7 linked regions of the Homo sapiens genome follow. The protein of the gene in region 3 purifies or fractionates together with the protein of the main gene of each other region. This does not show direct contact. Each region holds a gene or a part of one and is shown on either strand. Other genes may lie near its edges.

Region 1 (4,202 bases), on a different chromosome or scaffold from region 3:
AGTGGTGGGATTACAGGCGCATGCCACCATGCCCAGCTAATTTTTGCATTTTTAGTAGAGACGGAATTTTGCCATGTTGGCCAGGCTGGTCTTGAACTCCTGACCTCAAGTGATCTGCCCGCCTTGACCTCCCAAAGTGCTGGGATTACAGGCATGAGCCACCACACCTAGCCATCTTTTACCCCAGTCTCAACACATAATGAATATCACCATAACTTTGTTGAAAGAGAAAGTTGCTGTCATATTAAGGCTCTAACTATATATTGCTTAATATATTTTAAGGACGTTATACTCAATAATTAATCATTTCTGTCTACTTTGGACAAATGGCTGGTAGAAGTTTGTAACTTTTTTCTTTGAATTCTAATTTGAGGGAAAATCAATAGTGTGCTTTAACAAATGTTTTTATGGTCTTGCCAGCTTGCAGGTAAATTCCATAATGTGATTATATCATACTTAGGATTATACATTTTGGATTCATCTATTTATGAGCATTTCGTATTTCTCTTTTTATAGAGTATAAATCAACCTGTATTTTGGTCTCTACTGCCATGGTAAGTTTAGATTCTTATCTATTAATTAAAATCCAATTTATTTTCTGCCTAGATGCATTTGCTAAAAAGTGAAACATCAGTAGCAAATGGCAGTCAGTCAGAAAGTTCAGTGTCTACTCCATCTGCGTCATTTGAACCTAACAACACTTGTGAAAACTCTCAGTCCAGAAATGCAGAGCTTTGTGAGATACCACCCACTTCTGATACAAAGTCAGATACTGCAACAGGTAACTTTTAATGTACCTTTTTGAGTGCAATAGAAGCTCCTTCACTACATTTTAATATTTAAATATTAATATTTTAAAAATATATTGTATGTATTTTTCTTCACATTTATTTAACTTAAAATTTAAGAGTCATATTAAATACACATGTGTCATTTAGTGGCAGAAGACAATAAAGTCAGTGAATGTCAGCTCAACTCCCAAATAGTCAACAATCCAGAGCAATTGATTTATAATTTCTGCTATTGCGCTGCATGCTTCAAGGAATGTCATGACACTGAGCAGTTTTATAAATCTCTTACTAGCCTAGAGAATTTGGAAAGTTTCAAATGAACTAAAGTATTATATTTGGAATTGTTTCTATAACATGTAAAAAGCTATATAAATTTAAGAGAATAGTGTTATATATATTTTTTTTGATTAGAGGTAAAAGATAATTATGAAATAGAGCTTGTAGAAGTAAGAGGTGTGACTGTAAACTCATTGATAGAAAAGGCAAAAGAGAAATTTTTGGGATTGTGGTTGGAGTTGTTTGGTGTAATATAGCTTTGTATTAGGCAACCGAGGGGTAAATAAATCAAGATGTTAGGATATTAGTGTCCTAAAAGATGAATCTACTCCAGCATCCCACACAAATAATCATCAAGCTTCTATTTGAATGCATTCAATGATGGGAAGCTCATTACCTTGCTAGGAAGCCTGTTCTGTTGTTGAACAGCTCTAGTTTTTAGAAAGAGTCTTCCTTATATTGAGCTGAAATTTGATGCCCCATAACTTCCTGTTAACATTAATGCTGCCTTGTGGAGTTACACATGACAGGTTTTGAATATTTGAAATACAGCTATTTGTCTCATTTTGAGGTTTTACATCGGATGGATCATTCAACTTCTGGATGTGTACGGAACGGGGGGACTCTATTATGGATGTTCATTTAGGTCTACGACAGAATAATTACTTTAATTGTATTTACCTGGATATATATCATTTCCAAAATTCTTCATTCCATTTTGAAGATAGACACATGTTTCCCTCTGGTATAATATTCTTTCAGCCTGAAAATTTTCCTTTAGCATTACTTATTGTACAGGTCTGGAGTTTTCTTTATGTGAAATGACTTTGTTTTATCTTCATTCTGGAAGGATATTTTTGCTGGATATAAAAATTTTTGTTTACAGTTACAGGTATTGTCCACCGTCTTCTGGTCTTCATAGTGTTCTAATGAGAAGTCTCCACAAATTCTGATTGTTCCCCCCTGTAAGGAGTATGTTGCTTTTCTCTGGCTGCTTTCAGGATTTCTTTCTTTCTTTGGTTTTTAGCAATTTGACTGTGATATGCCTAAGTGTATTTTTCTTTGTATTTATCCTGTGTTTGGTTTGCCTAGTTTCTTACATCTGTAAATGTGTGACTTTCACCAAGTTTGGGAATTTTGGTCCATATATCTTGCTGGAATGAATTACATGTATATTAGGCTTCATGGTATTGTCCCACAGGTTTATTTTTTCACACTTATTTTTTCTTCTTTGGATTGGATAATTCTGTTGATCTGCAAGTTCACTGACTCTTTATCATCTCCATTCTGATGTTAAGCCCATCCAGTGAATTTTTTATTTTAGATAAAATTATGTTATACATTTTTTAGTTGTAGGATTTCTATTTCTTTCTCTCTTATTATAACTTTTTATTTTGAAATAGTTTGACTCATAAGTTACAGAAGTTGTGCAGAATGAGTACTCTTCATCTACGTTTTATTCTTTTAATTCATTTCAAGTGTATTTCCCTTTTCCTCATTTGAGTTATAATGGCTGCTTTAAAGTCTTTGTCTGACAGTTTCAATATCTAGCTCATCTGAGGATTGGCTTGTGTTGATCACCTTTACCCTTTAGAATGGGTCACATTTTCTTGTTTGTTCATATGTCAAAAAATGCTGGATTGTATCTTGTACATTGTTGTAGACACTCTGGATTTCATTATATTCCTGCAAAGAGTGTTGTTTTTGTTTTAGTAGACAATTAACTTGGCTAGACTAAAACTGCAAGCTCTGGCTTACCTGAGGTGAGTAGCAGCTCTAATCTCAGTTTTTTTTTAGCTTAAAAAAAATTTTTTTTTTTTTTTGGTCAGGTGTGGTTGTTCACACCTATAATCCCAGCACTTTGAGAGGCCAAGGTGGGCAGATTGCTTAAGCCCAGGAGTTTGAGACCCGCCTGGACAACACGGCAAAACTCTGTCTCTACAAAAATGTGTCTGCAGGGTCTGGCTCTGTCACCCAGGCTGGAGTGCAGTGGCACAAACATAGCTCACTATAATCTCCAACTCCTGGCCCACGTGATCTCCTGCTTCAGCCACCTGAGTAGCTAGGACTACAGGTGTGCACCACCACACCTGGCTAATTTTTTTTTTTTTTTTGAGATGGAATTTTGGTCTTGTTGCCCAAGCTGGAGTGCAATGGCACAATCTTGGCTCACCACAACCTCCATCTCCTAGGTTCAAGCGATTCTCCTGCCTCAGCCTGCTGAGTAGCTGGGATTACAGGCATGCGCCACCATGCCTGGCTAATTTTGTATTTTTAGTAGGGACGGGGTTTCTCCATGTTGATCAGGCTGGTCTCAATCTCCTGACCTCAGGTGATCTGCTTGCCTTGGCCTCCCAAAGTGCTGGGATTATAGGTATGAGCCACCACGCCCAGCCTAATTTTTTAATTATATTCTTTGCAGAGATGGGGTCTCACTATGTTGCTTAGGCTGTCTCAAACTCCTGTCCTCCAGTAATCCTCCTGCCTTGCCCTCTGAAAGTGCTGGGATTACAGGCATGAGTCATTGGATCCAGGCCTGTAGCTTTTTAAAACTATTTATTATGGAAAATTTCAAACATACATAGAAGTAGAAAAAAATAGTATAAGAAAACCCCATTAATCCATTGCCTAGCTTCATGGCCAATATTCTCATCTGTGCCCTCCACTCCTCTTCTTTTTCAACTTATTTAGAACAAATCTCAGGTAAAATATTTCAATATGTATCTCTAAAATATAAGAAAGGAATATAAATCTTTTAAGATTATATATAGTTGCCTTTTAAAATAATTTTTTTTTTTTGAGACAGAGTCTCACTTTGTTGGCCAGGCTGCAGTGCAGTGGCGTGATCTCGGCTCACTGCAACCTCCACTTCCCAGGTTCAAGTGATTCTCCTGTCTCAGCCTCCCGAGTAGCTGGGACTACAGGCGTGCACCACCATGCCCGGCTAATTTTTGTATTTTTAGTAGAGACGGGGTTTCACCATGTTGGCCAGGCTGGCCTCGAACTCCTGACCTCAGGTGATACGCCTGCCTCAGCTCCCAAAGTGCTGGGATTGTAGGCGTAAGCCACTGCGCCCAGCCAAAATAAATTTTAATTATGGAAATTTGCAAGCATATTCTAAAGTAGAGAGAACAG
Region 2 (4,202 bases), on a different chromosome or scaffold from region 3:
ACAGAATAACAGTGATTTTACAGAACAAGAGAAGACAACCAAAGGTCTGACTGCCTGCAGGGTCAGGCAGAATAGAGCCATATTCTTCTTCTTGCAGAGAGCCTATAAACGGATGTGCAAGTAGGAGAGATATCACTGAATTCTTTTCTCAGCAAGGAATATTAATAATACCCTGGGGAATACAAAATCAATGTACAAAAATCACAAGCATTCTTATACACCAACAACAGACAAACAGAGAGCCAAATCATGAGTGAATTCCTATTCACAATTGCTTCAAAGAGAATAAAATACCTAGGAATCCAACTTACAAGGGATGTGAAGGACCTCTTCAAGGAGAACTACAAACCACTGCTCAAGGAAATAAAAGAGGATACAAACAAATGGAAGAACATTCCATGCTCATGGGTAGGAAGAATCAATATCGTGAAAATGGCCATACTACCCAAGGTAATTTACAGATTCAATGCCATCCCCATAAAGCTACCAATGACTTTCTTCACAGAATTGGAAAAAACTACTTTAAAGTTCATATGGAACCAAGAAAGAGCCCGCATCGCCAAGTCAATCCTAAGCCAAAAGAACAAAGCTGGAGGCATCACACTACCTGACTTCAAACTATACTACAAGGCTACAGTAACCAAAACAGCATGGTACTGGTACCAAAACAGAGATATAGATCATTGGAACAGAACAGAGCCCTCAGAAATAATGCCGCATATCTACAACTATCTGATCTTTGACAAACCTGAGAAAAACAAGCAATGGGGAAAGGATTCCCTACTTAATAAATGGTGCTGGGAAAACTGGCTAGCCATATGTAGAAAGCTGAAACTGGATCCCTTCCTTACACCTTAGACAAAAATCAATTCAAGATGGATTAAAGATTTAAATGTTAGACCTAAAACCATAAAAACCCTAGAAGAAAACCTAGGCATTACCATTCAGGACATAGGCATGGGCAAGGACTTCATGTCCAAAACACCAAAAGCAATGGCAACAAAAGACAAAATTGACAAATGGGATCTAATTAAACTAAAGAGCTTCTGCACAGCAAAAGAAACTACCATCAGAGTGAACAGGCAACCTACAAAATGGGAGAAAATTTTCGCAACCTACTCATCTGACAAAGGGCTAATATCCAGAATCTACAATGAACTCAAACAAATTTACAAGAAAAAAACAACCCCATCAAAAAGTGGGCGAAGGACATGAACACACACTTCTCAAAAGAAGACATTTATGCAGCCAAAAAACACATGAAAAAATGCTCATCATCACTGGCCATCAGAGAAATGCAAATCAAAACCACATGAGATACCATCTCACACCAGTTAGAATGGCAATCATTAAAAAGTCAGGAAACAACAGGTGCTGGAGAGGATGTGGAGAAATAGGAACACTTTTACACTGTTGGTGGGACTGTAAACTAGTTCCACCATTGTGGAAGTCAGTGTGGCGATTCCTCAGGGATCTAGAACTAGAAATTCCATTTGACCCAGCCATCCCATTACTGGGTATATACCCAAATGACTATAAATCATGCTGCTATAAAGACACATGCACATGTATGTTTATTGCGGCATTATTCACAATAGCAAAGACTTGGAACCAACCCAAATGTCCAACAATGATAGACTGGATTAAGAAAATGTGGCACATATACACCATGGAATACTATGCAGCCATAAAAAATGATGAGTTCATGTCCTTTGTAGTGACATGGATGAAATTGGAAATCATCATTCTCAGTAAACTATCGCAAGAACAAAAACCAAACACTGCATATTCTCACTCATAGGTGGGAATTGAACGATGAGATCACATGGACACTGGAAGGGGAATATCACACTCTGGGGACTGTGGTGGGGTGGGGGGAGCGGGGAGGGATAGCATTGGGAGATATACCTAATGCTAGATGACGAGTTAGTGGGTGCAGCGCACCAGCATGGCACATGTATACATATGTAACTAACCTGCACAATGTGTACATGTACCCTAAAACTTAAAGTATAATAAAAAAAAAAATAGTAATACCCTGGGGAAGGAATTGCATTCCTGGGGGGAGGTCTATAAATGGCCGCTCTGGGAGTATCTGTCTTATGCGGTTGAGATAAGGACTGAAATACGCCCTGGTCTCCTGCAGTACCCTCAGGCTTATTAGGGTGCGGAAAAGATCCCGCCCTGGTAAGTTTGAGGTCAGACCGGTTCTCTGCTCTCGAACGCTGTTTTCTGTTGTTTAAGGTGTTTATCAAGATAATACGTGCACAGCCAAACATAGACCCTCATCAGTAATTCTAATTTTGCCCTTTGCCTTGTGATCTTTGCTTTGCCCTTGCCTTGTGATCTTTATTGCCCTGTAAAGCACGTGATCTTTGTGACCTACTCCCTGTACACTCCCTCCCCTTTTGAAATCCCTAATAAAAACTTCCTGGTTTTGTGGCTCAGGGGACATCACGGACCTACCGATATGTGATGTCACCCCTGGAGGCCCAGCTGTAGAATTCCTCTTTTTGTACTCTTTCTCTATTTCTCAGATGGGCCGACATTTAGGGAAAATAGAACATACATTGAAATATTGGGGGCTGGTTCCCCCAATAGATACACCTTACTCATCTTTGTATCTTAACCTAAACTGGCCTATCTAAATGCTTTGAGTGTAGTTGATACTCCTTAAGATAAATGCTAGTCAACTCACCTGAAAAATACATTTGCAACACAGATTTTTTGTTTAAGAGACAGTGTCTCGCTCCGTTGCCCAGGCTGGAGCGCAGTGGTATGATCATAGCTCACTGCATCCTTGAACTCCTGGGCTCAAGCAATCCTCCTATCTCAGCCTCCTGAGTAGCTGGGACTAAAAGTGCATGCCACCATGCCTGGCTAATTTTTAAACTTTTTTTGTAGAGACAGGGTCTCACTATGTTGCCTAGGCTGGTCTTGAACTCATGGCCTCAAGCAATCTTCCTGCCTTGGCCTCCCAAAGTGCTAGGATTACAGGCATGAGCCACTGTACCTGGCCAGAAATTTTTAAATTTAAACTTTATTTTTTCAGTTGGATTTTATTTTAGTCATTGGTTTCCCTAAGCTGTATATGCATCCATATATGGCAATGGCAGCTTCAGCTTATCATTTAGGAAAAATAAAGACTTTTAAAAATAAATACTTAAGACTTTCAGGCAATTTTAATGTGTTAAAATTTGGCTTTTTTGAATCACTAGGATCACTGATCTTCTTTTGAATATTATCTCAGAATACACAGAGTATTCAACCTGGAATATTTCTTTAAAAGGTACACTTGTACTGTGCCATGCTAAAAGTAGGGCGTTTCCTTGGTTACAGAATGCTAGGGCTAGAGATGTGTGGTGACTAGAATTAAAAACTATGATGAAAAAGCCTTAAAAATACTAAAATCCTTGAACTATACAAATCCCAACTTCTAATGCTGAAATCACTCTCCTTCGTGTACTGGGAAAATGAAGGATGATACATGCAAAGAATTAGTCCAAAAACAAGCCTTCAATGGTATCATCCTATCCATTGTGCAATTATAAAACAGATGTGAAGGCAGAGGGGAAAACAGTAATAAATATCAACACATTGTTATTTTGAAATACTGCAAGGAAAGTTATAGGTTATTTTATGGCCTAAAATTGACTGAAGGTCACAGTAAAATTTTTACTTTGCCAAAACACCAATGAGATAAAAAACAAATTTCTCCCTAAGAAATAGGACCTAAGACATTTAAGAAATTTTAAATGTGTCAATATTGTAGTTTTAAAATTTTAATTAATTTTTTTTTTTGAGACAGGGTCTTGCTGTGTTGCCCAGGTTGGTCTTGAACTCCTGGCTCAAGCAATCCTTCTGCCTTGGCCTCTGAAAGTGCTGGAATTACAGGCGTAAGCCATCACTCCCAGCCTAAATGTCTCAATGTTAAAGTTTACAGATAATCTCTTCTCACAATTTGACTGAAATCAAATACCTGAAAACAAATATATAGGAGGCTTAAACTACCTTAATTAGGATTAGCAAGACATTCTGCCAAAGCAGACAGCCCAGCACATTTACCAAAACCATTCTGTCCAAGGACAAGTATCTTTATCACCACTGTTTACACACATATGTATGAATGTACACTTGTATGTATCATGTATGCATCATATATAGGTATTTTAAAACTTTTTTTAAAGAGTGAAAGAAAACCA
Region 3 (4,202 bases):
GGAGGAAGGGAGGGAGGGAAGGAGGGAGGGAGGGAGGGACCCTCTTGGAGAAGTCTTAGGGAGGGGCCAGAGGGGAACAGAGGGGGAAACTGGCACATCAGCCAGGAGGGGAGGCCCTTACCGTGCTATTGGTTGAAAGATGAAGGCAGCTGGAGGTGTCACGGGGCAGGGAGAGGTGGAGCAGGAGGGAACAGAATACCCAACAGAAGGGGTGCCTGAGCTAAGGCAGAGGCTTGAGCCACTGGACATCATGAGGCACCCACACACACAGCGGCAGGAGCAGGGATGGGGCTGCCGAGAGGCCAGGCAGAACCTGGTGGGGCCTGGCGCACACAGCTAGGGAGGCTGATGTCATCCTGTCCACTGGAATCCCAGGCTGGATTCGCCAGTTTACCGAAGAGAGGATTTCAAATGAAAGTGAAAATTAAGTGCCAAATGATTCAACCTCAATTAGCAGCACACATTCTTCCATGCAGAGCTGAGCCCTGCCTTCCTCCCCGGGGTCGGGGAGGCAGTCATGACGGAGCAACAGGAATGGGCTCAGCTCTGTTCTAGAAACTGGCGCGATGGCAGGGAGTGAGGCAGATAAGGGCCCCGTCCTCAGGGAGCTTCCATCCAAGAGGAGGAGTGGCAGCAAAGGAGCAGCAAGATGAAGTCGGGCTGTCGGGGGGCCTATGAAGACAGCCAAGCAGGGTGGTGGGATGGAGAGGGCAGGTTGGAGACGGGGGGCTGCTGTAGACAGGGGGTCAAGGAGGCGATGTTTAAGCAGGGAACTGAATGACAGGAAGCAGGGAGGGTTCTGGGTGTCATAAAGGGGAGTGAAGAGGTTCGGGGGAGGCAGAGATCATCAAGGCAGTCTGTGTACTTGGAGTGAAGTGGGTAAGGGGTGTGGTAAATGAGGCTGGGGAGACGGGGGCTGTTGTTCACGGTTTGCGCATTAAGATGAGTTTTAAGTGTGAAGGGAGCCACAGGAGAGATTTAGGCCAGGTTAACTTTCAGTTGTTTTTTGGGAGGCTCTTTTTATTTTATTTTATTTTTTGAGACAGGGTCTCACTTTGTTGCCCAGGCTGGAGTGCAGTAGCACAATCACAGCTCAATGCAGCCGCACCCTCCTAGGCTCAAGCGATCCTCCCACCTCAGTCTCCCGAGTCGCTGGGACTACAGGCATGCACCACCATGCCCGGCTAATTTTTGTATTTTTTGTAGAGATGGGGTTTCTGCTCCATGTTGCCCAGGCTGGTCTCGAACTCATGGGCTCAAGCGATCTGCCTGCCTCAGCCTCCCAAAGTGCTGGGATTACAGGCATGAGCCACGGCGCCCAGCCTAACTTTCAGTTTTAAAAGCTCACCAGGGCTTCCGTCGAGCTTGGTTCTAACGAGGTGAGGTGTAAGGGGGCGCCCCTCTATGCCACAGGCACACGAGGGCACTGTCTTCCTGCCATGTTTCTGTATCCCCAACACCTAGCACGGGGCCATCCACAGAGCAGACTCAGGCTCCCCATCTGCGAAACGGGGGATTTGATGCAAAGAACTCACAGGGCCCTGCCGGCTCCAATATAGGGTCTATACAACAGAGCAGGCGGCAAGAGCCAATCACGGTGCAGCCCCACGAGTCCTGGCAACTGATTGGCTGCTCAGGAAGGTGTCAGTTCCGAAGGTTCAGGTCCATCCCTTTGCTGTTAACCCCTCATGGCTGGCAGCATGGGGAGCCAGCTCTCAGGCTTATCTGATCTTGTATCTGCAGCAGGGGCCTCCCCAACCCCCAGCAAACCTACCATCCTCAGCCCAGAAGCTCTCTCCACCTTAATCTCAGGTGCCAGAGATTTGGGGCTGCCTGTTTTTCCCAACCCACCTTCTCTCCCTCTTCCCCCTCCAATGTCAAGGGCCCAGTGTGACTATTTTACCCTCCCTTCACAGGGGCACAGGCATTGGCAGTAGCAGGATCCCGCTCTGGGGTCTCGTCTGGGGCTGAGAAACTTTGTGCCTGAAGCCATATGAGGGTGTGAGGCAGGATTCACCACAGAACTTGCAAGACCCAGTGCAAAATGGAAGTACAGGGCCCATGCTCAAAAATGATTAAGAATTTCAAGATGTAGACATCAGAGTATTAAACAAGGTGCAGGACCCTTCTGAGCATGGGGCCCTGTGCAATTGGATAGGTGGCCACACGCATAGAGCTGGCCCTACTGGGATACCTTCACCCAATCCTTCGGAGAGACTTGGGAAGGTAGATCTGGTCGGGCCTATTTCTCCAGCTTCTGTGATGTTGTCCAGGACAACAAAGTCCACTAGGGGCCACCAGGGATCAGGGACCTCCAGGCTGCTGAGAGCACCTGGCCATAACCTGGCCTCAGCAGCCTCAGCCATCCATCTCAACGTACAAGGGAGGTGCCTGGGGAAGGAGCTTGGGACTTCCAAGCCTCTACCTCTTATAGAAAAGGAGATTGAGGCTCAGAGAGGGGAAGTGATTGGTCCAAGGTCCTTCAGCAAGTGGGTCCTTCAACTCAGCCAAGATGCACAAAGGCGGGACAAGGTCTCAAGCCAGCATCCAGAGACCCAGGGACAGAGGCAGTGACAACACACTGCTGGTGACCATGGCCTTGAGCAGGAGCTGCCTCACCTAATTCTCCCTCCCTGCTCAGGTTTGCAGCCAGCCCTCCCTTGGCACTTAGAGGCACCTGATAAACGTTTGATAGTTGATGGTGAGTGGGCAGGAATCCTTGTTCCCATTTTGTATATAAGGACAGGACCAGAGAGGGGCACTCACCAGCATCAGGACCGAGCTGGGGCAAAAGCGGCTTTCTAGGCTCTCTGCTAGGGTTTCCCTGCCCTCTCCTGGCTGCCTGCCTTCCTCTAGCCTGGGCCAGGGCATCTAAGGCAGCTGAGCAGAGTGTCCCGGGGAGAGACAGCAGCAGAGAGAGCCCAGCCCACCCAAGTCTGGGGTTGGGGGTTGGGTAGTGAGGAATCCTCTGGGGTGGGTTGGAAGCATCTCGGCTCCAGGCTCTCTTCTCCCTTCTGCCTGCCCTCCTCTTCCTAGGAGAGCCTGATCCCTGCCCCTGAAAGGGGGGTTCATTAAGATCAAGAAATGAGGGCCCCCGCGAGGTTCTGCATGGACCTTGGCTCTGAAGCTGGACAGGACCGTGTAAGCCTGGGAGGCAAGCCTCTTAGTGGCTGTGAGGCTCAGCTTCCCCATGGGTGTCCTGTGCATGCTAATAGCCATCTCCCAGGGGGATCAAATGAGATCACACATGTGTGACATCTTGCGCAGGGGCCAGCATGTGGCAGGCCTTTGCTAGATGGTGGCTATGATCGATCTTCCTGTGGTCCTTCCCACGATGTCCAAGTCAGGTCAACTCAAAACACATGTGTTGTGTGTAAGGTAATGCATGTGTCATACCATGTAGAAGACACTGTGCTGAGATAATGGGAGACCCACAAAGAGCTGGCCATGGCTCCCTGCCCTCCACAGGCTCATAGTCATGGGAGAGATCAGATAAAGTCACTCTGGGGAGTGGAGACCCCTTCGTGGTAGATCAGAAAGGCTTCCCGGAGGAGGGGGCACTGGAGCTGCGCCTGGAGGCTTTAGACAGGTGGATGTGGGGAGAAAAAGCACTATGGGGAGAGAGAACAGCTTGAGCAAAGGCCCTGGGGTAGAAATGTGCAGGGAGCTTGTGGCGAACAGTAGGGTCCGGAGGAGGCAGAGTGTGAAGCAAAGTAATGGGTAATAAGGCCAGGTGGGAGGTTGAGTGAAGGCCATCAGGAGCCTTGAGTGCCATGCTAGGGAGTCGGGGAAATGTCCTAGGAGTGATGGGGACCCCTGAGGGCTGGCCAGGGAGGGGCTGGTGCCTCCCCAGTCATCCTTCCCTCCTGAGTCTGACACCAACACGCTCCCTCCACGTCCGATGACAGCCCTGCCTCCGCATCCTGCAATAGAGCGCAGGGCCTCCCAGGCCTGCAGACAGCTCTGTTCCACCCCTCAGCATGCCTTGTCCCCAGGTGTCCCTGTTCCTTGGAGTCAGGCTCTCTGGATCACCTCCTCCAGCAGCCTGCTTCCGCAGAAGCTCCTCTCCCAGCTCCTGCTCTTGCCTGAGCCAGCCTTCTCCTCCACGTCCCTTTGCTTGGAGGCCCAGCCTAAAGGCCACCCCTCCTCCCTTCTACCCCTTCCTCCATACCCCATCCCGGGTTCTGGGAGCCCCCAGCACC
Region 4 (4,202 bases), on a different chromosome or scaffold from region 3:
CTGTCTCAGTGCTCTTGTACTTGTTGCTTTCTGACTCATCCCCATCTCTTACCCCAGCTGGCTAGCTTCTATTTGTTTTTGAAATTTCTGCTTAAATGTCACCTCATCAGGTAGGCTTTTCTTACTCCCTGCTAGAGTAAGTCCTCCTTTTACCCGAGGCAAGTTTCTTTCTTTCTTCTTCTTCTTTTTTTTTTTTTTTTTTTTTGAGTCTCACTCTGTTGCCCAGGCTGGAGTGCAATGGCGCGATCTCGGCTCACTACAACCTCTGCCTCCTGGGTTCAAGCAATTCTCCTGCCTCAGCCTCTCGAGTAGCTGGGATTACAGGCATATGTCACCAGGCCCGGCTATTTTTTGTATTTTTAGTAAAGACGGGGTTTCGCCATGTTGGCCAGGCTGGTCTCAAACTCCTGACCTCAAGTGATCCACCCGCCTAGGCCTCCCAAAGGGCTGGGATTACAGATGTGAGCCACCACGCCCAGCCAAGAAACATACTTTTGAAAGAGCATACTTCTAAAAGGGCACAACCAACAGGTACACTCAGGAAGACTTGAAGGTCTACAGTATTAAGATTATTGGTTTAGAGAAGGACTTATCAAATTCTTCAACTTATTTATTGATGATGATGGACATCAGAGTAATGAGAGAGGGAGATGAAGAAATAGGCACAGATGTAGCCTGTGTAGTCCTTTGTTACTTTTTGACTGTAAGAAAACTGTCACATGCCAGGTTTAGTACCACACTGCAGTTGCAAAAAGGTAACTGAAACATCTGGAAGCTAAGTGACTTGAACTGGATTCGCTATGATTGACAAAGCTCACCTCTGTGGAGGGTACCAAGAAACCTACTTTCTTATGCACGACGGAGGAGCTGGAATTGATTGTGCTTTCGTCATCGTGCATCATGACAAGTTCGGAACTGCTCTCGTCCATGACTTCCTGCATGCTGTTCACACTGCTGCTCTGGCTGCCTGTGCTCACGGACATGCTTGGAATGGAATGGTTGCTGCCCAGGCTGTCCATTTCCCTGTTCAGGCTGGTTCCATGTTCACTGTCCTGTAAAAATGGGGCACTGAGGTTAGAAAAAAAGACTGAAGATAAAGAGTCAATCCATTGACAAAAGTGTCAAGCACACTCAATTTTGCAGTGTCAAGTTGCTTTTCTGCCAATCTGCAAAGACAAACTTTTTATGTACTGGCTCCACTACTCCTCCACCATTTTCATACATCTCATATTTGCTTCCTATGCCTTCCCCAGGGGCCATTCTGGACGTGGGTCATAAGGCTCCAAATGCTGCCATCCCAGGGCTTTCCCCTGTCATACACACTATCATATTATCGTGTTGCTATTCAGTAAGCAAAATCAAGCCAGGTTTGTAAGGGACCTTCTGGAACATCAAGGAGCTAGAGGAAGACTGCTGGCCACTAAACAGGTGAGCTCTAGGATATCTTCAAATACAGCAGTGGTCACTTGAAAAAGTAGAGTGGAAAGAGTTTTCAGATATTTGACAAGCAATATGCTCCCTCTGCAAGTCATTATTGAGTAACTTCATATCTAAGCAGAAATATTAATTCTACTTTCCTGGACAGGTAATTAAAGTCTGCCTCCCTCAAGCGATTCTATCATGCTTATCTCTGTAATCTTATTATATATATCTGTTAAATAATACTGGTATTCATCATTACTGGCCCAAAGACTACTATTTGAAAAGTGGTAAAATAATCAGAACATATAATTTATCCATCACAGTGGGATATCTTTTGATATAAGATTGAATAATAAAATTAAATCCATTTAGCTACAAATAAACCTTGTTCTCAAAAAACCATATGGTACACATATAACTTTAATAAACTGTTACTTAGCCATGGCAATATAAAAAATTACTGGGTAATATAAAATGGAAGATAATACATTATTTTTAACAGACTTATTTTCCCAATTAAAGGGGATCATTTCTATATATGCAATCAAGAAATTTTATAGTTCAATGCAACTTTCCGAGCTTCATTTTTAAAATTATTGATAAAATACTTTTATGTTTATTTTATTTTCTGTTAAAAAGCTAAAATACTCCTGTTCTTGTTATGTCTACGTTCTGAAATCCTGCCTCTTTAACTATATCCCTTTCTTCTATCTTCGGTGCCTCTGACTCTGCCCTGGCTCCATCTCTACTGCATTTAAAGATGAAGAAGCCTGCCTTATATTTATGGATCTCTCTACATGCTGCCCACTCTTACTTTTCCTTCTTAACCCAATTTCTGAATCTTAACATAATTATTTTTTCCTGTCTCCCTCTTATCAACTCCCATGAATTATACAACTCCAGTAATCTACTATTCATTCTACCTAGTCCTGTAAAACTGCTTTTACTAAGGTCATCAAGGATTCTCTAACTGAAAACTTCTATCTGTATACTGGCAAGAGTTTATAATGCCAGGACCTTAAACTCAAAAGGCACGAAACTGAAATCATCCTAAATCTACTCTTTCTCCCTGGTTCTTTTTCTCTGTTCTTGGTATTGACATACTCCTAGCCACCCAGGCTCCAATGCTCAGAGTCACCTTAAACTCCTCCTTATCTGTCACTGTCAATGAGAAGCCATGGATTATGAAATCTACCTCTACGATGTTTCTCTAAAGTGCTCCCTTTTCCCCATTTGCATCGACACTGACCTTATTACCTCTTGCATGGACTATTAGCCAGGATGTTGCCCATTCAAATCCATGTTACACTCTGTTGCTAGGATAATCTTCCTAAAGCACAACACCTTTCTGAGTCTAGAACACCCTATGCCCATTTGTCAGAAACTACCCACATCATGTCCTCCAGGAAACCTTCACTAATCCCACCAGCAGACTTATTTTCTCCCCATGATGGACCCCTGCAATGGGGTTACACCTCTGTAGCACTTTTCATATTTTGCCTTATATAAGTGTTATTTTATGAATGTCTCTTGTACAACCCTTCATGTTTCTTAAGGCGGACAGCATCAATTAATTTTTATCTTCAAAAGTTTTTCATAGTGCCCAGTCTAGAACTTTTTCACATAGTGGGCATTCTATAAGTGCCTGCTAAAATAAATTGAACCTACTTCCTCATCCTCCTGTGACTCATTCAAGGGTCCATTCCGTGTCTCTTGGAAAAGTATTTTTTTCATTTTTCGGTACTGTAGGTTATCTAGCTCACGAACTGCATCTTTTGTCCTCTGTATGAGGTCAATGAGGACACGTAGTGGCCGGTCTCGTCGAACAAAGTCATGCTGATTGAGGGAGGAGGAAAAAATAAACTGATAATGAAGAAATGTCCTTAGGTGCAAGGTACAGATATAAAAGGAAATAGAGAATCATAAAATAGTTCTATGGATATTACAGAAATAACAAAATATGATTTTCATGTCATGTGTCCTTCCATATTTTGTAAATCTCATAAAGAGATAGCTATGCTTTTTTCTTCTTCCTTAAGCCCCATTTTGCGGATGTGAGAATTCTTTTTAAAAATTGTACATATTTAAAGTATATGGCAACATGTTTTGATACACATATATATAGTGAAATGATTTCTACAGTTAAGCAAATTAACATATCTATTATCTCATATAGTTACTTCTTGGTGGCAAAGTACCGAAAATCTTTAGTCTTAGCAAATTTCCCAGATATAATACAATATTATCAACTATAGTCCTCATGCTGTACACTGGATCTCTACACTTATTTATCCCACATAACTAAAACTTTGTACCATTTGACTTTCATCTTTCCATTCCCCATCCCTTTCAACCACCTTTCATTTTGTGTTTTATTCTTTGTTTACTTTCCACATGTAAGTGACATCATATGCTATTTTTTTGTGTGTCTGGTTTATCTCACTTAGCATAATGTCTTCTGGGTTCACATGTATTGCTGCAAATGGCAGGCCCACTTTCTTAAGACTATATATAAAATAAATATTATAAATAAACAAATATATAATAAATATATATAATAAAATATTCAGTCATATATATTATTGAGTCTTAAATATCTATATCACATATACCATAATTTCTTTTATCCTTTCATCCACTGATGAACACATAGGATGTTTCCTTATTTTGGCTATAGAGAAAAATGCTGTGATGAACATGGGGGCACAGGTATTTTTATGAGGTGCTGACTTCATTTTCTTCAGGTATATAACCAGCAGGGGGATTATTGGAACAAATTA
Region 5 (4,202 bases), on a different chromosome or scaffold from region 3:
CTCAGAGACAATGCAAGAGCTTGGGATGCGGGAGATGTGGGCAAGGGCCACTGATGAATCTGCAGCTGAACGCTGCATTTTGTGCAGCCAATTATCCCGCAAACATTTCTTAACCACCTATTTGGCTAGAGGCTGTGGAAATGACAGGGGGTCCTCAGCCAGTGGGCCAGTGGCAAACACCGACATATTTAGGCACAATGCATGGTGGCCAGTGCTATGGCACAGTATTCCAGGCACCCTTAGGAGTCTAACTCTTAAATAGCAACATGGCCCCAAGCCTCAATTTACCCTTATGGTAGAGGGGTAGGGAAAGAGATGTGGGCACAGTATAGGTTTGTCACCATCCTAAAGTCCTTTTTAAAGAGGTTTTTCGCCAGGCATGATGGCTCATGCCTGTAATCCTAGCACTGGGAGGCTGAGGTGGGCAGATCACTCAAGGTTAGGCGTTCAAGACCAGCCTGGCCAACATGGTGAGACCCTATTTCTACAGAAATTAGCTGGGTGTGGTGGCGCATGCCTGTAGTCCCAGCTACTCAGGAGGCTGAGGCAGGAGGATGTCTTGAATCTGGGAGGCAGAGGTTGCAGCAAGCCACCTGCACTCCACCCTTGGCAACACAGCGAGATTCCATCTCAGAACAAAAAGAAGTAAAATAAAAAAATATATAAAGGGGATTTGGTGAGTTTTTCCAATTCCCAGGAGGGAATCAGCACTGAAAGGGCTGAGTTCTATTCTGGTATTTACAGCTGACACGTATGCGCACATGCACACACATACATGCACGCACACACACACACACGCACACACACGTGTGCACACCCACCTCCTGGAAAGCTATTTATTGAGAGTCACTGGGAACTTGGGCGAATGAACCCACCTCCCTGGCCTGCAATCCCCCATTTGAAACAAGCAGGTTGTAGTAGATGATTTCCAGAAGGCTCCCCAGCTCTAGAATTCTGTGTCCTATGATTTTCTGGCTCATTTAGAAGTGGTGTGGAAAGTACCCTTTGCCAACCGAATTCCACATTGCACAGCCTGCAGGCTGCCGACTCGAAGCAGTCATATGGCAAATGTTACTGCAAATATGAAGAGGCTCCTTTAAGGGATCCTCTGTGTCAATTTTCTTGAAGGCTTTTCTTATAGAGAATGCCCCCGTCATTTGGCCTGTGCAGGGTAGGAGTCACCATCCCAGATCTGCTACATCACTTGATTTCTTAACAGCCCCATAGAGCAGACAGGATACATGATAAAGAGAGGCCCATCCAACTTAGCCCATGTTCCTGGGTCCGGGACAGGAAACCCCACCAGCTGAGCTCCCTGCCCTGCTTCATGGCCAGTGGGTGCAAATAGGAAATGAGCCCAGAGCTGGGTAAAGAGCTCCTGGCTGAGGTCCAGTGAAAGTGTCCAGGCAGGCTCAGGCTGGTGGGTAGGGATGGGCAGGGCAATGCCATTCTCTTTCTCTGATTATGTAGGAATGACTTCCATTTCAGCTAGAGCAAAGCTTGCATTCAGCAGCCCTGAAGAGGGCCTCTGCCTCAAAGGGTGTGAAGAAGCAGCACTTCCTGGAATAGGGGTCATCTACGTCCCCTCCTGAGAAGTCCAGTGAACTGGAGACACGATTCCTCCCACTTCCCTTAAGAGTGAAGGGCTCTGAGCTGGGTGCGGTGGCTCATGCCTGTGATCCCAGCACTTTGGGAGGCTGAGGCGGGCGGATCATGAGGTCAGGAGATCGAGACCTTCCTGGCTAACATGGTGAATCCCCGTCCCTACTAAAAAATACAGAAAATTAGCCGGGCGTGGAGGTGGGCGCCTGTAGTCCTAGCTATTCGGGAGGCTGAGGCAGGAGAATGGCGTGAACCCGGGAGGTGGAGCTTGTAGTGAGCTGAGATCACGCCACTGCAGTCCAGCCTGGGTGACAGAACGAGACTCCATCTCAAAAAAAAAAAAAACAGTGAAGGGCTCTGAGCTAAGTGCTGAGCCAGCTCCACAGCAGCCACCAGCATCACAGGGGTCACCAGCCCCACAGAAGCCTTAACCTTCAGCAGTTGCTCCCACCAGCTCTAGCTGCTGGAGAACAAGCCCACTGGCCAGACATCCCTTCCCAGGATGCAAACTCCCCTTCCAGGGAGCCTAAAGCCAGGGCTGAAGCCGGTTCCCCTCAGTTCTACAGTCCAGAGTATCCCAAGCGACCGCTCAGCGCTGGGTGCTGGGCTGGGCCCTGGAGGTGGTGATAAGTATGTTGTTGGCCCCTCGAGGGCCTCACCGCATGGTGGAGGAGACACACAGATCATGGAACACACTTTGGTTCTCCCTAGGAAACCAGGGAAGGCATCTCAGAGATGATGCCTGAGGGTGGCTAGGAGTGGCTCTTCCCCTCCCTCCCTGCAAGGGGGGGAATTCTAACCACAGGGAGTCTAGTCCCCTTCCCCTCTCAGCTTTCCACAGGGCAGTGGTGTTAAAACCCCAGGCAGCACCCTCCTCTCCTTTCAAACATGGGTTCCTGAGGAAAACCAGATGGGGGACAGCCTCCATGCCTCTTCCCCCACCTTCTCTAGGCCTGGGGGACACCCTGAGGACCCTCCTGGGCAGGCCACGCTCCCCTCCTCAGCCCTTCTCTGGACGACCACACTCCAAAGCTCTGGCCACACTGACACCAGGTGCTTTTGGGTCTGCCCTTGAATGGCTGGGCTCCTAACCCCGCCATGTCCAGCTCGCTCCTGCCTCAGATCCTGTCCCAAGCTGCACCATGCTGGGAACACCCACATTCCCCCACCCCAGCCCTGGGCACCTTGTTTTTTTCCTTGAGTCAGGGTCTCCCTCTGTTGCCCAGGCTGGAGAGCAGTGGCGTGATCTTGGCTCACTGCAACCTCTGTCTCCCACGTTCAAGCAATTCTCCTACCTCAGTCTCCTGAGTAGCTGGGACTACAGGCGTGTGCCACTACCATGCCCAGCTAATTTTTTTGTCTTTTTAGTACAGTCTTACTAGGTTGCCCAGGCTGGTCTTGAACTCCTAGGCTCAAGTGATCCTCCCACCTTGGCCTCTCAAATTTGCTGGGATTCCAGGCGTGAGCAGCCACACCCTGCCACCGTGGAATTTTCTCTCCAGTTCTGAGAGCTAATCTCCCCAAAGCCTCAATGACTCCATCTCAAGAACCACCATCACAGACTCCCCGACCCTAATCTGCATCTCCCCTACACACTACAATTCATAGAGCCTCAGCCACATTAGGAAACACTGACCCTTTTAATTTTAAAATCCCTATGTGAAAACCCCACCTCCTTCAGGAAGCTTTCTCCAGACCTCCAGACCACCCCTTCCAAATCTTATACTCTTTTCCATATGCCTCCCTCTCCCACAGAGTGGCACTGGGGCTTCAGTTTTTATTATCATATATCCACTGATACCCACAAACATTGGCAGGATCCCAATGCCTGGGGTCCCTTAAACCCACCAGGTGCTCAATATATATGCTTACTAATCATCATAGCTATTTTTTGAGTGTTGATCCTGAGTTGGGCGTAAAGCCAAGCCCATGATATATATACTCGCTCATCTTCATAGCAACCCACAAGGTAGGGCTGTTATTACTTTATAGATGAAGAAACTGAGGTTCAGGGAGGTCCACTATTTTGTCCATGGTCATGCACATCTCTCTGACCCAAAGTCTGAGTGTTTCCACCCCACCAAGCTGCCTTTCTGTTGCCCAGAATTCATCCATTGAACATCAGATTGAGAGTACTGAATCAGCTTGTCCTTTCAGTAGCTGAGGGAACACGGAACCCCAGATATCTTATCATGGTGGAACTAGAGGTCCCTTTGGTTCTTTTATTCTATCTCACAAATAACGAAACGGAGGCACGGAGATGTGACTTACCATTGTGGTTCTGCCAGATGGTTATCAAACCAAAAAGCACTGAAAGGGGGTCTGATGAATTGTCCAACCCTTAAGGTGAATGCTTTCTTTGCTGTAGGCTGCATAATCTGCCCATATATTGGAAGGTAAGCTGGGGGAGAGGGGCAGGGATGGACCTGTCTGGGGATAATTCCTTTGTTGCAGAGACTCGAGCTATAAATCTTTCTTGCTTTGAATCAAATCACAGGATTCCAGCAGATGGGGGGCAGTGTTTATGCTATTCCCGATGACAGCAGCCCAGGCGACCACACCTTCAGAAGGACAGGGATGGAGCTGGCCTTACTGAGTCC
Region 6 (4,202 bases), on a different chromosome or scaffold from region 3:
GGAGTGCAGTGGCGCCATCTTGGCTCACTGCAACCTCCGCCTCCCAGGTTCACACTATTCTCCTGCCTCAGCCTCCTGAATAGCTGGGACCACAGGCACGTGCCACCACACCCGGCTAATTTTTTGCATTTTTAGTAGAGACGGAGTTTCACTGTATTAGCCAGGACGGTCTCAATCTCCTGACCTCATGACCCACCTGCCTCAGCCTCCCAAAGTGCTGGGATTATAGATATGAGCCACCACGCCCGGCCTCCTTTTATTTTTTTGAGATGGAGTCTTGCTCTGTCACCCAGGCTGAAGTGCTGTGGCTCGACCTTGGCTCACTGCAACCTCTGCCTCCCGGGTTCAAGTGCTTCTTCTACCTCAGCCTCCCGAGTAGCTGGGATTACAGGCACCCTCCACCACACCTGGCTAATTTTTGTAGAGAAGGGGTTTCACCATGTTGGCCAGGCTGGTCTTGAACTCCTGACTTCAGGTGATCCACCTGCCTTGGCCTCCCAAAGTGCTGGGATGACAGGCATCAGCCATCGTGACCGGCCTACATTTTTTTAAAAAGGTAATAACAATCATGAATGGAGTTGTTTTGGGTTTTATTTTCATAATTGTCCTCAGAAAGATAAGGTAAATGTGTGTACTGGCAGTTTTCCCATTTCTGAGCATGCTTTGTTGAGGAATAATAAAAGAGAATGACTCTGCCATAAAGACTATCTGCAGAAAAACACAGTTCTTATTAATTCAAGTTTCCTTTTGCTTAAAGAGCCAGAACTCAGTAATCTCCACAACTTCAGAATAAACCACCCAGGACTCATCAACATCATTTTATCCTGAAACCATATGGATTTTTCTTTATTCTTCCCCTTTAAATGCTGTTAAACCAAAACCAGAAGTAATACTCAGACCTCAGAACTACTATCTGGCTTGTAGTTAAAAACATGGATTTGGGTCAGGCGTGGTAGTTTACACCCATAATCCTAGCACTTTGGGAGGCTGAGGTGGGAGGACTGCTTCAGCCCAGGAGTTCAACACCAGCCTAGGCAACATGATGACATCCTGTCTCTCCAAAAAAAAAAAGAAAGAGAAAATATATATGGATTTGTTCCTTCTTTGAGAAACTGAAATTATATCTTGATTTTTTTTGGGGGGGGGACAATTTAGCATTTTTTTTCTAACTGTAGAAGTTCAAATGAAATATTATCTCTCTTTTTGAAATTTTTTTATTTTTTGTGGAGAGGAATCTCGCTATGTTGCCCAGGCTGGTCTTAAGCTCCTGGTCTCCCACCTCAGCCTCCTGAAGTGCTGGGATCACAGGAGTGAGCCACTGTGCTCGGCTGCAACATATATTATAGTGTGGAAATTGGCAACTATTCTCTACTCAGTTATTAGCAAACAACATATATGCCAACCCCGATGCTAAATTAAAACATGGACTATGATTAGTGATTGCTGTCTAGTTTATTTCTTATAAACTATATGGCCTTCTAATATTAAAACAATCTGTACACATTAAGGACACTGAGTAAACATTCATCATGCTTTTTGTAATGAATGTTTTACTTATTAATCATTCATCCTTATCTTCCTTCCCTACCAAATCAGAGTTTCTACCTGATTTTGACTTCCCCCTCTCCGCCTTCTAGGATGTGCTTTCAGCACAGTCTTTGGTGGCTGCTGTGCATTCTGACCCCCCTCTCTCCTCCCTCACACTGACTGTAAGTAGAAGAGCAGCAAAATGTCGCCGTATTTACCAGGAGGCAGGGGCTGTGTGACTGGGCCAACCTCAGCCCTCCTTACCTTGCACAGCCATGCTGGATGACCTGGCTCCTGACGCACACCTGGGCCATGGCTGCCCCACTCTCAAGCTTTCTCCATCTATGAGTCCCTGCAGCTTCACTACCCTGGCTGGCCACCCAACTCTAACTGCTTCTTCAGCCTTCTTCATGAGCTTTTGCTCCTCTTCCTACCTCCTTGACCAATCGGCACCCACCTCTGCCTGCAAGCTCTCATCATGCCTATGACTGCACAGATCACAGGGGCAGGGCTCATTTGGGAATCGTTTGTCCATCTCTCTTATTAGGTCATAAACTCCTGAGGGCAAGAACTGTGTCCTGTTCATGACTCAACAGTAGACAGTCAATTAATGCAATCAACCTCACTGATTATATGAACTCAAAAAGTTACGCTAGACTCTGCCTTCTCTGTTCGTCCCTGTGTCACTGATTGAGTCTACTCCACTGACTGACTATCGCGCCCAGGCAGAAAACCCTCAGTTCCTCCTTTCTAGCGGACAATATTCATCCCAAGTGCAAAGAATTTCAGTAAGAACATTTAACATAGCCTGAATCAGACCTATGAATACTTTTTATTCCAAACCTTCAGGAAAGTTAAACTTCCTGCCTCCTGAAGCCACCCTGCTTCCTGAAGCCACCCATCTCATCTGTGATCTGGTCCAAGGGCCACGCCTGTCTTAGGCTGGAACGTGCCCACTTGTCCAGTACTGGCTGGCAGCATACAAGGATACTGGCCCCTCTGAGGCCTTCTTTCCCCACACTGACATGTCCTCACATCTACACCACTTGAGGTCATGTGGCGTTAGGACGGACCATCGTGACCCCCATCTAAGAGGTCTGATGTGCAGCATGGAAGGGATCTGTTCCAGAGCCCTGTGTCTGATGATGTGGCTGCGGGACTGAGACCCCAAGGGCAGTGTTCTAATACAGCTCTAAGAACTGAGTATTTAATGATCCTGGTAAAGTCAAGATGAACCTGAAAGGTGCACCGTACGTTGCATGTTCCCATCTCCCCACTCCCATTGTCTGCAGCTGTGCTGTGGCCTCTTCATCCTGTCATCCTGTTTTTTTCCAGGCTTTCAAACGCAGGCTAAGATCCTACCTATTCTTTGAGGTCATTTCCAAGGGCTACCTTCCACATAAAATTTTCTCTCCAGTCCTTGCAAAAGAATGAAATTCTTCACGGCAACCCTGTAACACAGAACACATCCTGTGTGTCTGCCCTCCTATCACAGTGTGGGCTCACTTTCCCTGTGTGCTGCAGGCCCCATAAGCCCGCCTTCTGGACCATGCCGGGCTCTGTGTCCCTGCAATAAGCAGCTGAGGGGCTCCCACGCTGTGGACAGGGAGTGGATACCCATGGAACACAGTCATCAGGCCCCAGACAGCCAGGATTTGCTGTTAAGACAAAAGCCTAAATACCTGACTGACCGATTTCAAAAGTGCCACCTCTCTCGCTTGCTTGTGGGATGGTGGGGACTGAGCTGACACAGCTGGTCATCCAGCTGCCTACGCATTCTCTGTGCTCTTGTCCCCACTGAGTCCAAACACAAGGTTATCTTTAAAAAATAAAACAATACCAGGAATCCTTCACCTCTACATTTTATTGTAATTTACCTCAGAAGTTAAACAACCCTAGTGCTTCTTCATGACTTTGAAGGTGAAGGTATTCAGATACTGCATAAAAGACAGCAATCGCACTTGCTGTAAGAACACCAACACTGATGCTTTTAGAACAAAAGGTTTATCATCAAGTGGTGGCACCATTCTTACCAGATTATCGAGCATCCGCATGAGGGCTTCAAATTCCTGCTCACCAATCTGCCACTTGGGAGGCGATCCAGTGCCTTCCCCTACCGGAGACCCTGGGGAACGGGACTTGGCTTTGTACTTCTCAGGATTCAGCAGGACTAAGTTGTCTGGTCCTCCTGCACTGGCCAGAGTTCGAACCTTTTCCAAAACACACACAGCATGGCTTGAGTTCCTTACTGAGATCAAGAGGGTCAGATGACTTGAATAAAAATGTAGGTTTCAAAAGAAACCAAATCTCTAGAGTGTAAGAATAAAAAATGTAGAATGGATAGTGACAGACTGATCACAAAGTTACTTTCAGAAGTATTTCTTTAGCATGACAAAAATATTGGGCACCAAAGTTGGCAGAGAAATGAGAAAACACAGCACCTTTCAGGATCCTACAAAGGACTTGGGACTTCACTACGCCACAGACATAAGTCAAGAAGCAGAGGGGAGAACGTGAACTAACGGCTGACGGAGCGGAGGGGAACTCACAGCTGTAAGCTGCAGGCAAGTCTCTGAGTCTCTACTTCTGTATACCTGCTTTTTCAAAGAGTACTGTGGGGGTCACGTGACATCACATATGCGATGACACACACTAAGCACCTGATGCCAGGCCTA
Region 7 (4,202 bases), on a different chromosome or scaffold from region 3:
AGAAACCACAGAAATATACATAAACACAAAATGAAACAAAACAGAGTCCCCAAACAACTCACCATCCACGTGATAACTACTGTTGACTTTTTTTTTTTTTTTTTTTTAACTCATAGAGACGGGGTCTCAATGTGTTGCCCAGGCTGGTCTCGAACTCCTTTGGTCAAGCGATCCTCCAGCCTTGGTCTCCCAAAGTGCTAGGATTACAGGTGTGAGCCACCGCGCCCTACTGTTAACATTTTGAGGCCAGGTGCAGTAGCTTGAGACCAGCCTCCGCAACGTGGCAAAAGCCTATCTCTACAAAAAATACAAAGAATTAGCCAGGCATTATGGTGCGTGGTAGCAGTCTCAGCCACTCGGGAGGCTAAGGTGGGAGGTTGAGGTTGCAGTGAGCTGTGTTCGTGTCACTGCACTCCAGCCTGGGCGACAGAGTGAGACCCTGTCTCAAAATACAAACAGGCTGGGCGCTCATGCCTGTAATCCCAGCACTTTGGGAGGCTGAAGTGGGTGGATCACCTGAAGTCTGGAACTCAAGACCAGCCTGGCCAACATGGCGAAAACTCACCTCTACTAAAATACAAAAATTAGCTGGGCGTGGTGGCGGGTGCCTGTAATTCCAGCCACCTGGGAGGCTGAGGCAAGAGAATCGCTTGAACCCGGGAGGCAGAGGTTGCAGTGAGTCGAAATTGCACCACTGCACTTCAGCCTAGGTAACAGAGCGAGACTCTGTCTCAAAACGAACCAACCAACCACAACATTTTGGTATACATACTTCTGGTTTCTTTTCAATGTATATGAATGATTATGTATAGATACAGTTTACTTTAACAAAAGATGCCCAATGAAAAATGAAAATTTTGTTGATCGAGTTGCTGGACTATTTTGTTATCTGCTTTCTAACTTAATAACTCCTCCAAACAAATAAGGAGAACAAAATAAAAACTAAATTCTGTTATGAAATGAAAAGACCACAATATAGGAAGAAACGGAAGAATGGTAAATGCCTTTGGTTTGCGCCTCCTTGGCCTTGTTAAGTGACTACAGTGAGAGTTGTGGTTGAAAGGTCAATTGACTGGACCTAGAGTCCTAAAAAGGCTCAGGAATTGGAAACACCTCAGGAGGGGAATGAGAAGCTGAAAAGACGAGGATCTCTAGGAAGTCTTCCAAGTAATCAGATCCCCAGGTTCCCACCCAGCAGGCAGGCAACTATCTCTCCTCAACCACTATAGGAGTCACGAGTCTTAGCCTCTGGCGAGGTCACTTAAATTTCCTGAAGTAGACAACTCTGCTGGCTTTATAAGAGAATGTCCATGTTTTTAGGAAAAACAAGGATTTAAGGATAAAGAAGCATGAATTATGTAACTTATTCTCAAATAGTCCAGGGGAAAAAAATACCTGTGTGTGTGCATTCAGAGAGAATAATAAATTACACAGGACGATACATTAACAATTACGGAGTCCAGGTAAAGAATATACTACTCTTGTGACTTTTAGGTAAACAGGAAATTATTTTTAAATGAGTAGTTTAAAAGTGTTATTTATTCAAGAGTGTATTGTCTCAGGTAGGGAAATGTGGTAAACAATCCTTTGCTATTTTATTTGTACTATTTACTTAGCAGAGTTACCCTTCTATTGTAGTTTATTGCAGAATCAATCAAATGCAACTCAGGACTGGTTGAATTTTGATGGATTCCAGGTTGCAAGAGTTTTACTTTATACAGACCAAAAATCAAATACTAGTTATAATCTGCAACAAAAACTAGTTGACAAGTCCTTTAATTGTGGGTATTTTTATGCCTAAATTCACAAATATGGATTATTTTAAACAAAGGTTTATTTTGGTTTAAGTCCTCTTTGCGGGGAAGGGCAGAGGGTCACAGTTAACATTTGTTGAGCACCTGCTATGTTCCAAGTGCTTTGAATATATCATTTCATTTAATTCTTACAACAGTCCTACAAACTAAGAAGTGGTATCCTTGTTTCACAAAACTGAGTCGTAGAAAAGTAATTTGCCCAAGGTCACACAACTAATAAATAAGCTGGTAGTCCGAGTTGTTTAAAACCCCATGTATAGTGCCTTCTACATAGTAGATACTTGAGTATTTATTAAATGAATTGAACTTGAATTACACACTGATTTTTATTTTTTAGCCAGAGAACTGTTGAGCTACTGCAGTAGGCAAAGCCCAAGAGGCAGGTTTGAACCTAAATCCAGATTTCAGTAATTCCATGTTTAGAGAACCAGGGAATTTTCTTTGATTGAACCCCCGGGTTCAAGCAATTCTCCTGCCTCAGCCTCCTGAGTAGCTGGGATTACAGGTGCCTGCCACCATGTCAGGCTAATTTTTGTATTTTTAGTAGATGGGTTTTTGCCATGCTGGTTGGCCAGGCTGGTCTCATACTTCTGACCTCAGGTGATCCACCCACCTTGGCCTCCCAAACAAAGTGCTAGGATTACAGGCATGAGCCACCGCGCCTGGCGAGAACCAGGGAATTTTCTAAACCTTCACAGAAAAGTCCAGTGATAACCTTTGACAAGACTAGTTAATGGGAAATAATGGTTTATAAATTGGGGGTGTGGGGGGATGGGCCAGGCATGGTGGCTCATGCCTGGGAAGCCTAGGCAGAATGATTACTTGAGTCCAGGAGTTCAAGACCAACCTGGGCAATACAGCGAGACCCCGTCTCTCCAAAAAGTTTTTAAAAATTAGCCTCCCTCTCCTCTCCTCTCCCGTCTCCACGTCCTGATAAATCGACGCCATTGTTTTTCCTTCATAACATGAACTAGGAATGTCTGCTTATCAATATAGGTTACTTAGCCTGGTTTTTCATCTTTAGCCCAACAGTTCATTAATTGGAACTTTAAAAATCAAAGAATCCAGGCCAGGCATGGTAGCTCATGCCTGTAATCCCAGCACTTTGGGAGGCTGAGGTGGGACGACTGCTTGAGCCCAGAAGTTCGAGATCAACCTGGGCAACATAGCAAGACCTCATCTCTACTAAAAATTAAAGAATGAACTGGGCATGATGGTGCACATCTGCAATCTCACATACTGGGACCTCATCTCTACTAAAAATTAAAGAATGAACTGGGCATGATGGTGCACATCTGCAATCTCACATACTGGGGAGGCTGAGGTGGAAGGATTGCTTAAGCCCAGGAGTTTGAGATTGCAGTGAGCCATGATTATTTTACTGCACTCCATCCTGGGCAACAGAGGAACTGAACTTGTCAGAAAGAAAAGAAAGGGAAGGGGAAGAAAGGAAGGAATGAAGGAAGGGAAGGAAAGAAAAAGAGAAGAAAGAGCAGGGCGCAGTGGCTCACGCCTGTAATCCCAACACTTTGGGAGGCCCAGGCGGGCGGATCACGAGGTCAGGAGATCGAGACCATCCTGGCTAACACGGTGAAACCCCGTCTCTACTAAAAATACAAAAAATTAGCCCGGCGCGGTGGTGGGCGTCTGTAGTCCCAGCTACTCGGGAGGCTGAGGCAGGAGAATGGTGCGAATCCGGGAGGCGGAGCTTGCAGTGAGCCGAGATCGCGCCACTGCACTCCAGCCTGGGCGACATAGCGAGACTCCGCCTCAAAAAAAAAAAAAAAAAAAAAAAAGAAAAAGAGAGGAAGGGAAGAAACAACTAAAATCTCTAAGGGTGTTTTTTGTGTTCTGTTTTTTTCTAGTACATATACATTTACTTTTTTTTTGTTGTTGTTGGTTTTTTGTGGGGGTTTTTTTGGGGTTTTTTTTTGGAGGGGAAAGGCGGGGCAGGGTTTTGCACTGTCACCCAGGCTGCAGTGCACTTATAGGATCATAGCTCACTGCAGCCTTGACCTCCCAGGCTCAAGTGATCCTTCTGCCTTAGCCTCCCAAGTAGCTGGAACTATAGGCACTGCCACTGTGCCTGGCTAATTTTTATATTTTGTAGAGACAGGGGTCTCACTGTGTTACTAGGGCTGGTCTCAAACTCTAGGGCTCAAGTGATCCTCCTGCTTTAGCCTACGTTTACTTTATACCTAGACAATTGCTGGAGATTTGGTAAGTTTTCCAGAAGGGTCCTTCTGGAAGGTTGAAGCCTGGCTTTTGGGATATTGGAGTTAAATGAGAGAATGGTAAGCAGAGTTAAGAGGGGAAACTTCTTTTTAATTTCCACATTTTCCGTCCAGGACCTCATCCTTCCTTTACTCTTGCAACCTGGAATCCATC

Evidence for each region.
Region 1: the proteins of RAC2 (region 3) and UBXN4 purify together in Homo sapiens (affinity purification with mass spectrometry, with the first as the bait; one study listed by BioGRID). This does not show direct contact.
Region 2: the proteins of RAC2 (region 3) and RAP1GDS1 purify together in Homo sapiens (affinity purification with mass spectrometry; 2 studies listed by BioGRID and IntAct, with this or other methods). This does not show direct contact.
Region 4: the proteins of RAC2 (region 3) and TAOK3 purify together in Homo sapiens (affinity purification with mass spectrometry, with the first as the bait; one study listed by BioGRID). This does not show direct contact.
Region 5: the proteins of RAC2 (region 3) and PODXL purify together in Homo sapiens (affinity purification with mass spectrometry, with the first as the bait; one study listed by BioGRID). This does not show direct contact.
Region 6: the proteins of RAC2 (region 3) and ADD1 purify together in Homo sapiens (affinity purification with mass spectrometry, with the first as the bait; one large-scale study listed by BioGRID). This does not show direct contact.
Region 7: the proteins of RAC2 (region 3) and SLC30A5 purify together in Homo sapiens (affinity purification with mass spectrometry, with the first as the bait; one study listed by BioGRID). This does not show direct contact.

What each region holds. Positions count from the first base shown.
Region 1 is NC_000002.12:135,754,911-135,759,112, forward strand, and holds part of UBXN4 (UBX domain-containing protein 4), read left to right. Parts: intron 1-606; coding exon 607-781; intron 782-4,202. UniProt on the Homo sapiens protein: Involved in endoplasmic reticulum-associated protein degradation (ERAD). Acts as a platform to recruit both UBQLN1 and VCP to the ER during ERAD.
Region 2 is NC_000004.12:98,411,048-98,415,249, reverse strand, and holds part of RAP1GDS1 (rap1 GTPase-GDP dissociation stimulator 1), read right to left. Parts: intron 1-4,202. UniProt on the Homo sapiens protein: Acts as a GEF (guanine nucleotide exchange factor) for the Rho family of small GTP-binding proteins (G proteins) that stimulates the dissociation of GDP to enable subsequent binding of GTP.
Region 3 is NC_000022.11:37,237,216-37,241,417, forward strand, and holds part of RAC2 (ras-related C3 botulinum toxin substrate 2), read right to left. Parts: intron 1-4,202. UniProt on the Homo sapiens protein: Plasma membrane-associated small GTPase which cycles between an active GTP-bound and inactive GDP-bound state.
Region 4 is NC_000012.12:118,198,206-118,202,407, forward strand, and holds part of TAOK3 (serine/threonine-protein kinase TAO3), read right to left. Parts: intron 3,259-4,202; coding exon 3,091-3,258; intron 1,053-3,090; coding exon 846-1,052; coding exon of another isoform or gene 819-845; intron 1-818. UniProt on the Homo sapiens protein: Serine/threonine-protein kinase that acts as a regulator of the p38/MAPK14 stress-activated MAPK cascade and of the MAPK8/JNK cascade.
Region 5 is NC_000007.14:131,550,004-131,554,205, forward strand, and holds part of PODXL (podocalyxin isoform 1 precursor), read right to left. Parts: intron 1-4,202. UniProt on the Homo sapiens protein: Involved in the regulation of both adhesion and cell morphology and cancer progression. Functions as an anti-adhesive molecule that maintains an open filtration pathway between neighboring foot processes in the podocyte by charge repulsion.
Region 6 is NC_000004.12:2,898,794-2,902,995, reverse strand, and holds part of ADD1 (alpha-adducin), read right to left. Parts: intron 3,738-4,202; coding exon 3,561-3,737; intron 1-3,560. UniProt on the Homo sapiens protein: Membrane-cytoskeleton-associated protein that promotes the assembly of the spectrin-actin network. Binds to calmodulin.
Region 7 is NC_000005.10:69,096,518-69,100,719, reverse strand, and holds part of SLC30A5 (proton-coupled zinc antiporter SLC30A5), read right to left. Parts: intron 1-4,202. UniProt on the Homo sapiens protein: Together with SLC30A6 forms a functional proton-coupled zinc ion antiporter mediating zinc entry into the lumen of organelles along the secretory pathway.